Regions from separate parts of the Homo sapiens genome. Here all the other regions are linked to region 3. Evidence: fine-mapped expression QTL. A gene starts in region 3. Each other region holds a variant in brackets. All regions are shown on one strand. Distances are between the middles of the regions. Region 1 holds the start of GSTT4 (glutathione S-transferase theta 4). Region 2 overlaps GSTT4 (glutathione S-transferase theta 4). Region 3 holds the start of GSTT2B (glutathione S-transferase theta 2B).

Region 1 (4,148 bases), 46 kb before region 3:
CTGTGGGCATGCCTTAGGCACAAAGATCAAAGGTGTTTCTGTGTTGGGCATTGTTCCTTTATCTGAGTGAGCCAGAGGTTTGTGCAAGTTTCCTTATCTGTGCCTGAAGCCTGATTTTTCAGGCTGTTCCTCTGTTTAAAGGAGTTTTACCAAGGACCCACCTTAATTACCTAACTTTTCTCTCTCAATATCACTCTCACTACACTGAGGATGGCAGATTTAACATGGGGAATCTATATCAAAGACTGTGGCCTTATGGTCTTGGTGAGAGTTAGGCCTGAATCCCATCCATGGTGACCGCAACGATTCATTCATATCCAATGCAAGCATTCCCTGAGGCACTCTGGGAAGCAGGACACCATGAAACACACTGGCAGAGGAATGAGTGCAAAATACTTGGGTCAGGGGTCCAGGGGAAGGAACTCCAAGGTCTAGCTATCAATGAAAGTCCTTAGCAGTGGTTAGGTACAAACACACCAGGCACAGGCATATTCCATTAGAAATTGATTTTATTAACTACATAGACTGCACAGACTGAAAATCTGAATTTGGTGTTTCACTGGTACGCTAAAGATAAGGATCATCAAAGGTTTATGCAGGGAAACAGTGACCACCACGGTGTCCAAGGGTCATTAGAGGAAAATTCTGCATGGAACATGTGGAAAGCTACAGAAATGGAGACTCCCTATAGGCTCCCCCACACCACCCCTACATACTTTGACATTCAACAGACTGATAGGATATTTAGATAAGAGGGTGGGGACCTCATTCATTCAGTTTCAATGCAGTTTCGGCGCTGACATTGCATTTCCAGGTTTGGCATTCTGGGACATGGGTTTTACAAGGTGCCTAGCTACAGAGAATTATCAGCAAGAGTTAACAGAGAAGATGAAGTTCTCTGCCCAGGAATGCCCAGAGAAAGTCCCTGAAGACAAATCTGCCCTGTGCTCTGGCCCACTACAGCAGACTATGGAGAGGAAACAGCTCAGAACTAGTGGAGAAGGGCTGAGCAACTCCTGGAGGTCCAGAATTCTGGGGAGGGCAGGTGAGAGGAGCAGCAATGGGGCTTGAGCTCTTCCTGGACCTGACACACTATCCACTTTTGCAAGACAGAATGACATCCCTTTTGAGCTGTGGATGGTGGAGTTGGCTTGGGGTGAGCCAGGTGGCTGGGCTGGGCCCCATGGAGTGGGTGCCAAGGACCAGGCCCTACACTGAGCCTTCTCTCCTTTCTGCCCACCAAGGGAGCACCTGAAGCCTGAGTTCCTGAAGGTGAACCCCCTGGGGAAGGTGCCTGCCCTCAGAGATGGCGACTTCCTACTAGCAAAGAGGTAATGGTGACCTGGTGCCCACCCAGGGTCAGAGCCAGGATCTGCCTGGGTTCTGGGGCTCAGAGTTGTAGGGGGAGGCAGAGGCGAGAGGGGAGATCTTTCCTTGGCTTGGAGATCTTTCCAAATCACTGAGGCCCCTTCCTCATTTCAGCCTGTGTAGCTCCGATGCAGAGGCTGGACCCAGGGGCACCTTTGGGCTAAAGCTGGAGGCTGGAACCTGGCTAGAGTCTGAGCCAGCTGGAGCTGCCCAGGTGGGGAAAGGACGTAGGTCACCCGGATAAACCTGGACAACCTGAAGCCAGCGGGCAAGGCCCAGGCTTGAGGCTGGCTCCTCCCCAAATGTCCCCAGCTCATCCTTTCAGAGTCCTAGGAGCTGGGCAGACCCAGGGGAGACTCCACATTCAATCCCAGCTCACCACTTCCTCAATCCATGCCCTTGGGGAAATCACAGAACTTTGTGTGCCAGGTTTCTCCTCTGTAAAACGGAGTGGGAGGAATAATGTATCCACCTCCCAGGGCTTACCTGAGGATAGAAAATGGGCACCTAGTGTTCTGGGGCACTAGGAAGGGAACTTGGAGACCTTTTGGGCAGGGCCCACACGGCAGGCACTCTGAGTGGGGACCCTGATGCCAGGGAGTGGGGCCTGGGCACAGAGGGCAGGATGGTATGGTAACTGGGAGGGG[A/T]GGTGGAAACATGGGCCCAGGGAGGATCAGAGTTGGAAATGGAGAAACAGAGTGGTTTGGTCGTGGGGAGATACTGCCTGGAGGGAGTTGCAGTATAGGGGAGGTCCTCCCCTGAAGGTGAAGGTGGGGAGAAAACCTGGTCAAATCACCCTGAGTATGAGCAATGAAGCCACCTGGCCCTGACAGGCTGGAGAAAAGATCTCTGACACCCCCTGCCCACAGCATGGTCATCGTTTTATACCTGAGTCGAAAGTACCAGATACGGGGACACTGGTACCCACCTGAGCTGCAAGCCCGCACCTGCGTGGATGAGTACTTGGCGTGGAAGCATGTCACCATCCAGCTGCCTGCCACCAATGTCTACCTGTGCAAGGTGAGCTTCCTAGGCCCTGTCATGCAGGCTGGGGCAGGGGCCTGGACCCCCAGAGATGGAAGGCACCAGTTGGTACATATTACATATTAGCTTCACTTCCACTGTCCTCAGCAGACATAACTAATCTATCACAGTACTCCTTCCCCTAAGCCTGAATGAATCCTTAGAAACCTTCTGAACACAGAGCCCCAGAGGACATCACTAATGAGTGGCAGCCGGGAAGGGATGGAGAGGAGGCCCAAGAGGCTTCCAAGAGTCTGGGTTAAGTTGCTCCTCTCCTCCCAGCCCAGTCTCTCCTGCCCCACTTCTCCGGACAGCCTGCAGATGCTGCACAGCTGGAGCGGCTGTTGGGGAGGCTGATGCCAGCCCTGCAGCACCTGGATTGGGGGGTGCTGGTGGCCAGGCCCTTCCTGGCAATGGAGCAGATCTCCCTGGAAGACTTGGTGCTGACGGAGGTGATGCAGGTGAAGCTTTCCTACCCACCTGCCCTCTGGGGGGACTCTGGGCATGGGGCTGAGCCCCAACCCCAGCTGCCCTGTCTTCCCAGCCCACTGCCGTTGGCTGCGACCTCTTCCAAGACTGCCCCGGCTGGCAGTGTGGCAGGCCCGTGTGGCGGCTGCCCTTGGTACTGAGCTCTTGCTGGAGGCCCACAAGCTCATACTCCAGCCTCTGAACCACAGTGAGGCTTGGCGGGACCCCCAGCTGGCCCAGAAGCAGGTGCAGTGGGTGCAGCCCACTCCACTGCACCCTGCTGTCTGCAATAAACACACTGCATGCTCTTCGCTTGTCTCCAGGCTTACTCTGTCACCAGAAGTGGGGTCAGTCCCATTTCTCAGCCTAGACCTATTAGATCACAGCATAGAGTGAGTGGCACTCAGTCCTCTACGTGGGGCTCTAGTTACCTTCCTTGGCCACCAGGTACACAGTCTGGCCACTGCAGCCCCAACCAAGGCCAGGAAGTTTCTAGGCTCCTCTGTGTGGCACACACCGGCTGAGTGCCCCCTGACTTCCTGGTGGTGGTGTCCCCATTGCTCCCAAAGCTCACAGTTTCCTGTGTCTCTTTCTCCCAGTTCCTTTCTAGTCATAGTTCAGGCTCGATTCACCTGTGTCTCTTTCTCCCAATTCCTTTCTAGTCATAGTTCAGGCTCGATTTACCTGTGGATACTCCCAGCCTCTACTTCTAGAATCCTCCAGGGATAATTCTCATTGCCTCCTCTTCATTCTGGACCCTGCAAAGCCCCTTTCGTCAGGTTCTGCAATGAAAATCCAGCCGTGGGAATTCCCAGGCATAATCCCTTCTCAGACTGGTGTCTGTGAGGTGGCACCACGGGGCACAGGCACACGTGGAAGGGGGAGAGTAGGGTCACGGCTGCCACACCTTTGCCACGGGCCTCTCCCCAGCCTACTCCTGGGCCTCCTTAGAATCCTTGATGCTGTGAGAATTGCAGGCTTCCTGGCCTTATGACAACACAAAGGGAAACAAGAGGTTTCCCTGGGGAACACAGGATCCTGGGCCCAGATCGGAGAGGGCACAGGGCCAGGGACTCTGGCCAGACATAGGCCCAGGTCTGTGGCTGGCCAACTGCGGCTGTGGGGCCTGGCATGTGTCTCAACATGGCACTGGAGCTCTACATGGACCTGCTGTCAGCACCCTGCCGTGCCGTCTACATCTTCTCGAAGAAGCATGACATCCAGTTCAACTTTCAGTTTGTGGATCTGCTGAAAGGTCAACTCCCACTGCTGCCTGGCAGGCCTGGTCC
Region 2 (4,148 bases), 40 kb before region 3:
AGAGTGAGATCCCATCTCAAAAATAAAAATAAATAAGTAAATAAATCAATAAATGTTTAGGAACATACTTTTCAGAGATAAGAGTTCTTAAAACAAACAAAAAAAAAGCAACAGGCTGGGTGTGGTGGCTCATGCCTATAATCCCAGCACTTCCAGAGGCTGACACGGGAGGATCGCTTGAGGCCAGGAAGTTCAGAACTGCAGTGAACTCTGATTGCGCCACTGCACTCCAGCCTGGGCTAGGATAGAGCGTAGCATCACTACGATACCATTAAGATACCTCATAAAATTAACAATAATTCCTGGATTTCATCTAATATGTGGCTCCTGTTCAAAACTCTATGATTATCTCCTAAACATTTTCTTGGCAGTTTGTTTGGATCAGGATCCAAAGAAGTTTTTTTTTTTTTTTTTTTTGAGACGGAGTCTCGCTCTGTTGCCCAGGCTGGAGTGCAGTGGCGCTATCTTGGCTCACTGCAAGCTCCGCCTCCCGGGTTCACGCCATTCTCCTGCCTCAGCCTCCTGAGTAGCTGGGACTACAGGTGCCCGCCACCATGCCTGGCTAATTTTTTTGTATTTTTAGTAGAGACGGGGTTTCACTGTGTTAACCAGGATGGTCTCGATCTCCTGACCCCATGATCCCCCCGCCTCGGCCTCCCAGAGTGCTGGGATTACAGGCGTGAGCCACCGTGCCCAGCCAAGAAGTTCTGAGTCTTGCAGCCAGTTGCTGTCTCTCCTGCCACTTTTTAACCGATAGCTCTCTCCATGCCCTGACCTTTTTACCTTGGCATGGTTGCTGCTGGTGATGATAAAGGAGCCCTTGTTCTGCGGAGGTTCCCACACCAGCCATCAATCAGCAAGGCCTAGGACATCCCCTCCGAAGCATGTCTCCCCTCCATCCCCTTCCCTCTGTCCCCATGGCCTCCAACATTCCCAGACACCACAACCTTCCCGATAGTTGCTGGCCCCCTCATTGTCCATTCTGCCCCCTCGGGCTCACCCTCCATCCAGCACCAGAGAGATGGATCCTTTCATGCCCTGGCTTATATAATGCCTAATCTTAAGCATTAAGTCCATAACCTCCCTGCACCTCCAGGGGCTACCCTACGTGGACTCCACAGTGTCTCTGGCTGCCTCATCACTCCCCAATCACCCCCACCCTTCTTCCAGTTGCAACCCCCTACTCTCTTTTCTTCAGATTTACCTTGCTCCCTTTACCCTCGTATTTCAGCATGTGTTTTTCTTTGTTGGTTTTTTGAGACAGAGTCTTGCTCTGTGGCCCAGGCTGGAGTACAGTGGCACAATCTTGGCTCACTACAACCTCTGCCTCCCAGGTTCAAGTGACTCCCGTGCCTCAGCTTCCCAAGTAGCTGGGATTACAGGTGTGTGCCACCACAACTAGCTAATTTTTGTATTTTCATTTTAGTAGAGACAGGGTTTCACCATGTTGGCCAGGCTGGTCTCCAACTCCTGGCCTCAAGGGATCTGCCCCCATTGGCCTCCCAAAGTGCCGGGATTACAGGTGTGAGCCATCGTGCCCCCCCGTTTTTGTTTTTGAAAAAGGATCTTGATCTTTCACCCAAGCTGGAGTGCAGTGGTGTGATCTTGGCTCACAGTAGCCCCAAATTCCTGGGATCAAGTGATCCTCCCACCTCAGCATCCCAATTCAACACGTGTTGTTCCCCCTGCTGGCCTACTCTTTGTTATACCACCAGCCCCCAACTCCTACTCACCCC[G/A]CAGGGCTCCTTCCCAGCCCTTACTGACTGTCAGACAGACAGCTCTGGTGAAGGTCTTTCTCGGGGCCGTTTGGGCTCCTCTTTGCTCTGGAAGCCCCAGCAGTTGGGCCCAGGCCACACCGGGGTGGTTGATGTAGTGGCACTCAGGAAGGCAAGGGCAGTGCCCCTGACCGGCCCCTTCTGCAGCGCGGCCATCCTTTACTACCTGTGCCGCAAGTACAGCGCACCATCGCACTGGTGCCCGCCAGACCCGCACGCACGTGCCCGTGTGGATGAGTTCGTGGCTTGGCAACACACGGCCTTTCAGCTGCCCATGAAGAAGATAGTCTGGCTCAAGGTGAGCAGGGCCACTTCTGGGGCTTGGGGACACGGGCACAGGGAAGTCAGGAAGGCTGGAGGCCAGTTCTGGCCCTGCTGACTGCCGGCGACCTCAAGCAAGTCTCCCTCCCTCTCTGGGCCTCATTTCCTCAGCTCCTTCTCCTGCCCGCCTTACAGAGCCGTCAGGAGTGTGGACTGAAACAATGGGCATGAAAGAGTCTTATTAGGGCGAGGGGAAGGGCATACGGGAGGGGCTGATGTGACTCACCCAGGACAGCATTCGAGGCATTTCATTCTGAACTAGAGAATCTCAGCGTCAAAAGGCCCACAGAAGGCCGGGTACGGTGGCTCACAACTGTAATCCCAGTACTTTGGGAGGCCGAGGCGGGCAGATCACTTGAGGTCAGGAGTTCAAGACCTACCTTGCCAACATTGTGAAACACCATCTCTACTAAAAATACAAAATTATTAGCTGGGTGTGGTGATGGGCACCTGTAATCCCAGCTACTCAGGACGCTGAGGCAGGACAATTGCTTGAACCCAGGAGTTGGAGTTGGCAGTGAGCCAAGATTGTGCCACTGCACTCCAGCCTGGGCGACAGAGTGAGACTCCATCTCAAAAAACAAAAACAAAAAAGAGTATGGCCTATAGAAAATTAGAAGATGACAAATAACCAGTACATGTGTCTCTACTTTGAATTCTATGCCTGTGACAGACATCACTAATCAATCACAGGACTTATGCCTGCTGAGCTCCCCAAATCCTTGTGAACACATGGTTCCCAGCAACTTCCACCAATCAGAACTGCTAAAAGAGGTGAAACTGCTTTATATCCTGGGAAGTGTTCAATATCTATCCAGCAGACAAGAGTACAGAGACCTGGCAGGGCAGGTGGCCCTGGAGTGCAGCCTCCTCTTCCCTCCTCTTCCCAACCCTGGCCAGTTGCTGATCCCAAAGATAACAGGGGAGGAAGTTTCAGCTGAGAAGATGGAGCATGCAGTGGAAGAGGTGAAGAACAGCCTGCAGCTCTTTGAGGAGTATTTTCTGCAGGATAAGATGTTCATCACCGGGAACCAAATCTCACTGGCTGACCTGGTGGCCGTGGTGGAGATGATGCAGGTGTGGAGTGGATTGGAGGAGGGTTAGACCCTGGGCAGAGGTAGGACTCCTCTGTGACCAATGGGGCCATCACTTGAGGATAGGCTGGTGAGGCGGGAAAGGCAGGCAGAGCTGCCATGGGGGCTGCGGGAACCAGGCCTGGGGGCCTGGACTCAATCGGGGCAACAGGAAGCACAGAATGTTATGAATCAGGAAGGATCACAGTTCTCCACACTTGACAAAGATTCTTCGGTGTGGGAGGACCCGGAGGGTGAGCCTGGGATAGAGAAGAACACTGCATTTCCTGCTCAATCCACCGGCATCCCAGATACCTCCTCCTCTTGCTGGACTCTCCAGGAAATGTTCACTGGCTTCCTGGGTGTCCTTCTGGCCCTGCCTGTTTCCCAGAGCTCCAGACAGACAGCTCTGGAGGACAGCTCTCGTGGCTGGGTCTGAGGGGCATCCACTGTGCATTTGGAGGCACACCTGAGTGTGGGGCATTTATGTGGCCTCTACATGCAGGGGAGGGTGACCAGTTCTGCTTGTCAAGACACTGGCCAGGGTCTCAACTGGCCATCCTGCACACCAGCTAGGGCACTGCACACTGACCAAAGAGACTAATTTGCATATCAGCCAGAGATATGCCCGAGAGGAGGGACCTGGGGTCCTGGTGGATTGACCAGAAAATGCAGTATTCTTTTCCTTATCCCAGAGATCTCTGGCTGATATGAAAATTAGTCTCCTTGGTCTGTTTGCAGGGCAGACCAGCACCAGGAAAAATCATTCTGGCCTGCCCCAAGGGTTCAGCCATATGCTTCGTCCCCACCCCTTACATTTCACCCACACACACCCATTCTTGGGCTTCCCAAAGATCTTGGGTGCAAACCAAACTCTTAGTAAGCCAGCGAAACTGCAGGGTAGACTGCCCGCCAGGTCTCCCATCCTAGCCCCTGAGCTTGATCACAGTGGGAGGCTAAACATGGAGGAAAAAACCTG
Region 3 (4,148 bases):
CCCGATGGATCCTCCAGAGAGGCGGTCCCTTACTTTCAGCAGGGCGCGTGTCTACCTGTTTCATGCTGTCTCACACACAGGGTGCCACCCCTGTGCTGGGCACTGGGTAAGTGCTCTGTACATATTAATTAGGAGTACTCATTTCAAAAATATGTGTGCCTTTGATAAATAAAAACAGTATGTGCATGTTGTGTTGGTGTGTGCTTCCTTGATTATTACTGAAGTTAAACATGTTTTCATCCATGTATTGACCATTTCTCTTTGTCCTTCAATGAAACCTCTGCTGATTTCCTTCGCTCATTTTTTTCCTGTGTCTTCGTCTGATGAGTTTCTCTTCTTTTTGTTTGTTCGTTTGTTTGTTTTGAGACAGTCTCGCTCAGTGGCCCGGCTGGAGTGCAGTGGTATGATCTCAGCTCACTGAAACCTCTGCCTCCAAGGTTCAAGTGATTCTCCTGTCTCAGCCTCCCGAGTGTGCCACCGCACCCAGCTAATTTTTGTATTTTTAGTAGAGACGGGGCTTCACCGTGTTGCCCAGGCTGGTCTCAAACTCCTGACCTCAACTGATCCGCCCATCTCTGCCTCCCAAAGTACAGGGATTACAGGCGTGAACCACCACACCCTACCTGTCTGATGGGTTTCTAAGAACATCTTAAAGGACATTACTTCCTTCTGACGTATCTTTTACCGAGATCCTTCCCAGTTTTTTGCTTAAGGTTAATCCATTTTTTCCTCCACAAAGTAACCTTGTATATGTATTGGTTTTTTCTTTGTTGAGTTCTCCCACTGTTCTGAGGCTTAGAAAGTCCTTTCATACCCAGACATCAGAGAAACAGATCCCGTGAGAGTAACTGGGATTGCAGGTGTGGGCCAGCATGCCCTGTTATCACTCCCTTTCTCTGAGTCAGCTTTTCTCTCTCAGTCTCGTCTACTCCTCGAACTCAGGAAATGTCACTACAGGTGGCCCCAGCTCCCGTTTACCTCCCCATAGGGAGCTCCTCTCTCCAGTTCCAGTTTCAAAACTCCCAAGGAAGCATTCTGGTTCACTCGCTTGGGCCACTGGCCAGAGGGATGGGATACTCTGAAAGATTCAGCTAGAGTCCCGGGCCCAGCCCTGGACCATCACTGTGCCCCCTGGTGAGATGCCAGGGCTGGGATTCAGGGAGAAGAAAGGAGGTTCCCGGACAGTCATTCCTGCCTCCCGCGGCTGCGGGCTCCCTGCCCCCATCCTGTGCACGAAGTGGGAGCTCCCGCTGTCTGGCAGCTCCCGCTGTCTGGCAGCAGCTGCTCTGCAGGGGACAGTCTGGACGGCAGAAAGTTCATCCTTAACCCCAGCCTTCCAGTCAAGGTTCCCACCAGTTTGGGACACCTGCAAGTGTCACATCCCACTGGGTGAAACTCTAAGATCCCTTTTAGGGGATCCCATTCGCTCCCTCCCTTCCGCCACCATGCAGCGCCGAGAAACAGAGCTCTGAACGAACCCTCAGATGTCCGTGCGCTGGGGCCTTTCCAGGACGGCGGCGCCCAGTCGTTTCTGGGTCAGGGCGACGCCTGGAACTGGGCAGGGTCCCTGGCACCGGGATCCCGAAAAGCAGACCTGCTTCTCCCTGTCCAGCCGGTTCCCCTTCCCCTTGCAGTCGGCCCCCTGCATCCGCGTCCTCCCTGCCAGTCGAGGGTCCCCAGCTCCAACTCCACCCTCCCAGCTGTGCGTTCATAGCGACCGCCCTCCCTGTAGGGACGCACGGATCTGGTGGTGGAGTCTTGGCCGGCAGGACTGGACAGGAACCGAAGGGGCGAGGCGGGTCCGGGGGTGGTGCGCTCCAATTGGGTGCTGTCCCCAGGGGGTGGGGCCTGATCCCCTATTTCCCGGCGCGCCGGGATCCTGCCACAGCTGCTGCCCACACCGCGCTCAGCGCCTTCACTGCCATCCCCGCTGTCCTTGCCGCCCCCGCCATGGGCCTAGAGCTGTTTCTTGACCTGGTGTCCCAGCCCAGCCGCGCCGTCTACATCTTCGCCAAGAAGAATGGCATCCCCTTAGAGCTGCGCACCGTGGATTTGGTCAAAGGTGGGCCCAGCCCGTTTCCCCGCGTGTCCACAAACCCAGTGCACCCCCAGGCCCCCGCCCTGCTCTGCCCTGAGCGTCTCGCCGCCCGCACAGCCCCCTCACCTCCTCCTGCAGCGTCTGCCACCAGAGAATGCTGTGGACTGAGTGGCCTTGGAGGGATCACAGCCTCTCTGAACCTTAGCTTGCCTTCTGAAAAGGAGGATAATGTTACCTTCTGCTCTGTAGGGATGGAAAGAAAATACTGAATGGAGTTGACAGAGTTCTTGCGTGGAATGCACGCATATAAATTCACAAAGCCCAGAAGACCTTGGGAAGAAGGACATGCTGTTGTGAGAATTAAGAGATGGGAAGAGATGAGCCACCCCAGTTTGCCTCCCCTCCCCTGGCCCACCAGAGTCCGGCTAGAAAACTTCTCTTTATCCACCTGCTGCACCTGGCCCCACCCACCAAAGCCCCCCAGCTGCCCCGGAATGTGGCAGGGCAGGGAGGCCCAGCCAGGGAGTGAGGCTGATCCAGGCCTCTAGTCCCAGACCTTGCTGTTTCTCAGGGCTGTGGGGCTCCGCTTGGGGAGGAGGAGGGAGGGTGTAGAGGTGCAGCGTTTTTATTCTGAAGACCTTTTCTGACTTCTTCCTCTTCAGGGCAGCACAAGAGCAAGGAGTTCTTGCAGATCAACAGCCTGGGGAAACTGCCGACGCTCAAGGATGGTGATTTCATCTTGACCGAAAGGTGCCCTCCTTCCCTCACCCCTCACCGCATCCGGAGCCCATGTGACCTTGGCTCTCCCCACTGGCCCCGGGCCCCAGTGGCCCTCCCATACCCCATGGGGCAGCGAGGGAGGGGAAAGGCGAGGGATCTGGCCGGGCGCGGTGGCTCACGCCTGTCATCCCGGCACTTCGGGAGGCCAAGGCGGGCGGATCACGAGGTCAGGAGACCGAGACCATCCTGGCTAACACCGTGAAACACCGTCTCTACTAAAAATGGAAAAAAAATTAACCGGGCGTGGTGGCGGGCGTCTGTAGTCCCAGCTACTCTGGAGGCTGAGGCAGGAGAATGGTGTGAACCCAGGAAGCGGAGCTTGCAGTGTGCTGAGATCGCGCCACTGCACTCCAGCCTGGGCGACAGAGCTAGACTCCGTCTCAAAAAGGCCGGGCGCGGTGGTTTACGCCTGTAATCCCAGCACTTTGGGAGGCCGAGGTGGGCGGATCACGAGGTCAGGAGATCGAGACCATCCTGGGTAACACGGTGAAACCCTGTCTCTACTAAAAATACAAAACATTAGCAGGGCGTGGTGGCGGCCGCCTGTAGTCCCAGCTACTGGGGAGGCTGAGGCAGGAGAATGGCGTGAACCCAGGAGGCGGAGCTTGCAATGAGCAGAGATAGCACCACTGCACTCCAGCCTGGGTGACAGAGGGAGCCCACTCCAGCCTGGGCGACAGAGGGAGACTCCGTCTCAAAAAAAAAGGAAAGAAAGAAAGGAGAGGTATCTGGGGAGAAGGTACAGCTTGGGGTGTGACCGGGATGAGCAGGGGCTGACAGAACATGTCCCCCCACCTCTCATCTTCCAGCCTTTTCTGAGCCGCAGGGCCTCTCCACTCCCAGACTGAAGGGTATTAGAAGAGAAGACAAGGGAACATTTTTCCACTGTTGCGCATTTGTTCAACAAATGCTAGCTGAAAAGAGCCTCTAGTGACTTGTTGCAGACTACCCAATCTACCCAGGCCGGGCCTAGAGGCCAATGCCATGGCCCAAGGGCACAGCTCATGGTGAGGTCCAGCTGCTGGGCAGGAAAAGGACAAGAGGTCAGGTGGCTGCAGAAGTGATGGCTGGGGGCCTGTCAGACGGGGGCCAAAGACATTCCTCCCCTCGTGATCCCTGACCCAAGCGCGTGGACATGCAAGGGACTCCACGGAGCATCCACTGTGTGCCAGCCCCATGCAGGGTTCCAGGGGTCCAGGGAGCCTATTCTGAGCTGCACCGCCTCGGACAAGTCACTTGACCATTCTGACCTTGAGTTTTCTCTTGTGCTAAAAGGCTAACAGGAGTGTCTACCTCACAGGGCGGCTGCTGGCATATCACAGAGATGAGG

The links. PIP is the estimated chance that this variant, and not a neighbour inherited with it, causes the effect.
Region 1: its variant is fine-mapped to the expression of GSTT2B in stomach (GTEx, PIP 0.92).
Region 2: its variant is fine-mapped to the expression of GSTT2B in transverse colon (GTEx, PIP 0.90).

Annotation. Positions count from the first base shown.
Region 1 is chr22:24,005,211-24,009,358 of GRCh38, reverse strand. GSTT4 (glutathione S-transferase theta 4) reads left to right here and starts at 3,906. Exons shown (of 5, transcript NM_001358664.2): 1 at 3,906-4,114. The coding sequence starts at 4,003. It overlaps LOC105372959 (a long non-coding RNA gene), which reads right to left and starts at 3,808. Exons shown (of 2, transcript XR_001755457.1): 1 at 3,767-3,808; 2 at 492-3,641. The variant A/T (reference allele first, on the strand shown) is at 2,016.
Region 2 is chr22:23,999,100-24,003,247 of GRCh38, reverse strand. GSTT4 (glutathione S-transferase theta 4) reads left to right here. Exons shown (of 5, transcript NM_001358664.2): 3 at 1,923-2,073; 4 at 2,997-3,173. Among named protein-coding and RNA genes, the nearest start is that of GSTT4, 4.3 kb to the left of the region's middle. The variant G/A (reference allele first, on the strand shown) is at 1,737.
Region 3 is chr22:23,958,934-23,963,081 of GRCh38, reverse strand. GSTT2B (glutathione S-transferase theta 2B) reads left to right here and starts at 1,887. Exons shown (of 5, transcript NM_001080843.4): 1 at 1,887-2,062; 2 at 2,701-2,788. The coding sequence starts at 1,951. RefSeq lists an enhancer at 3,001-3,666.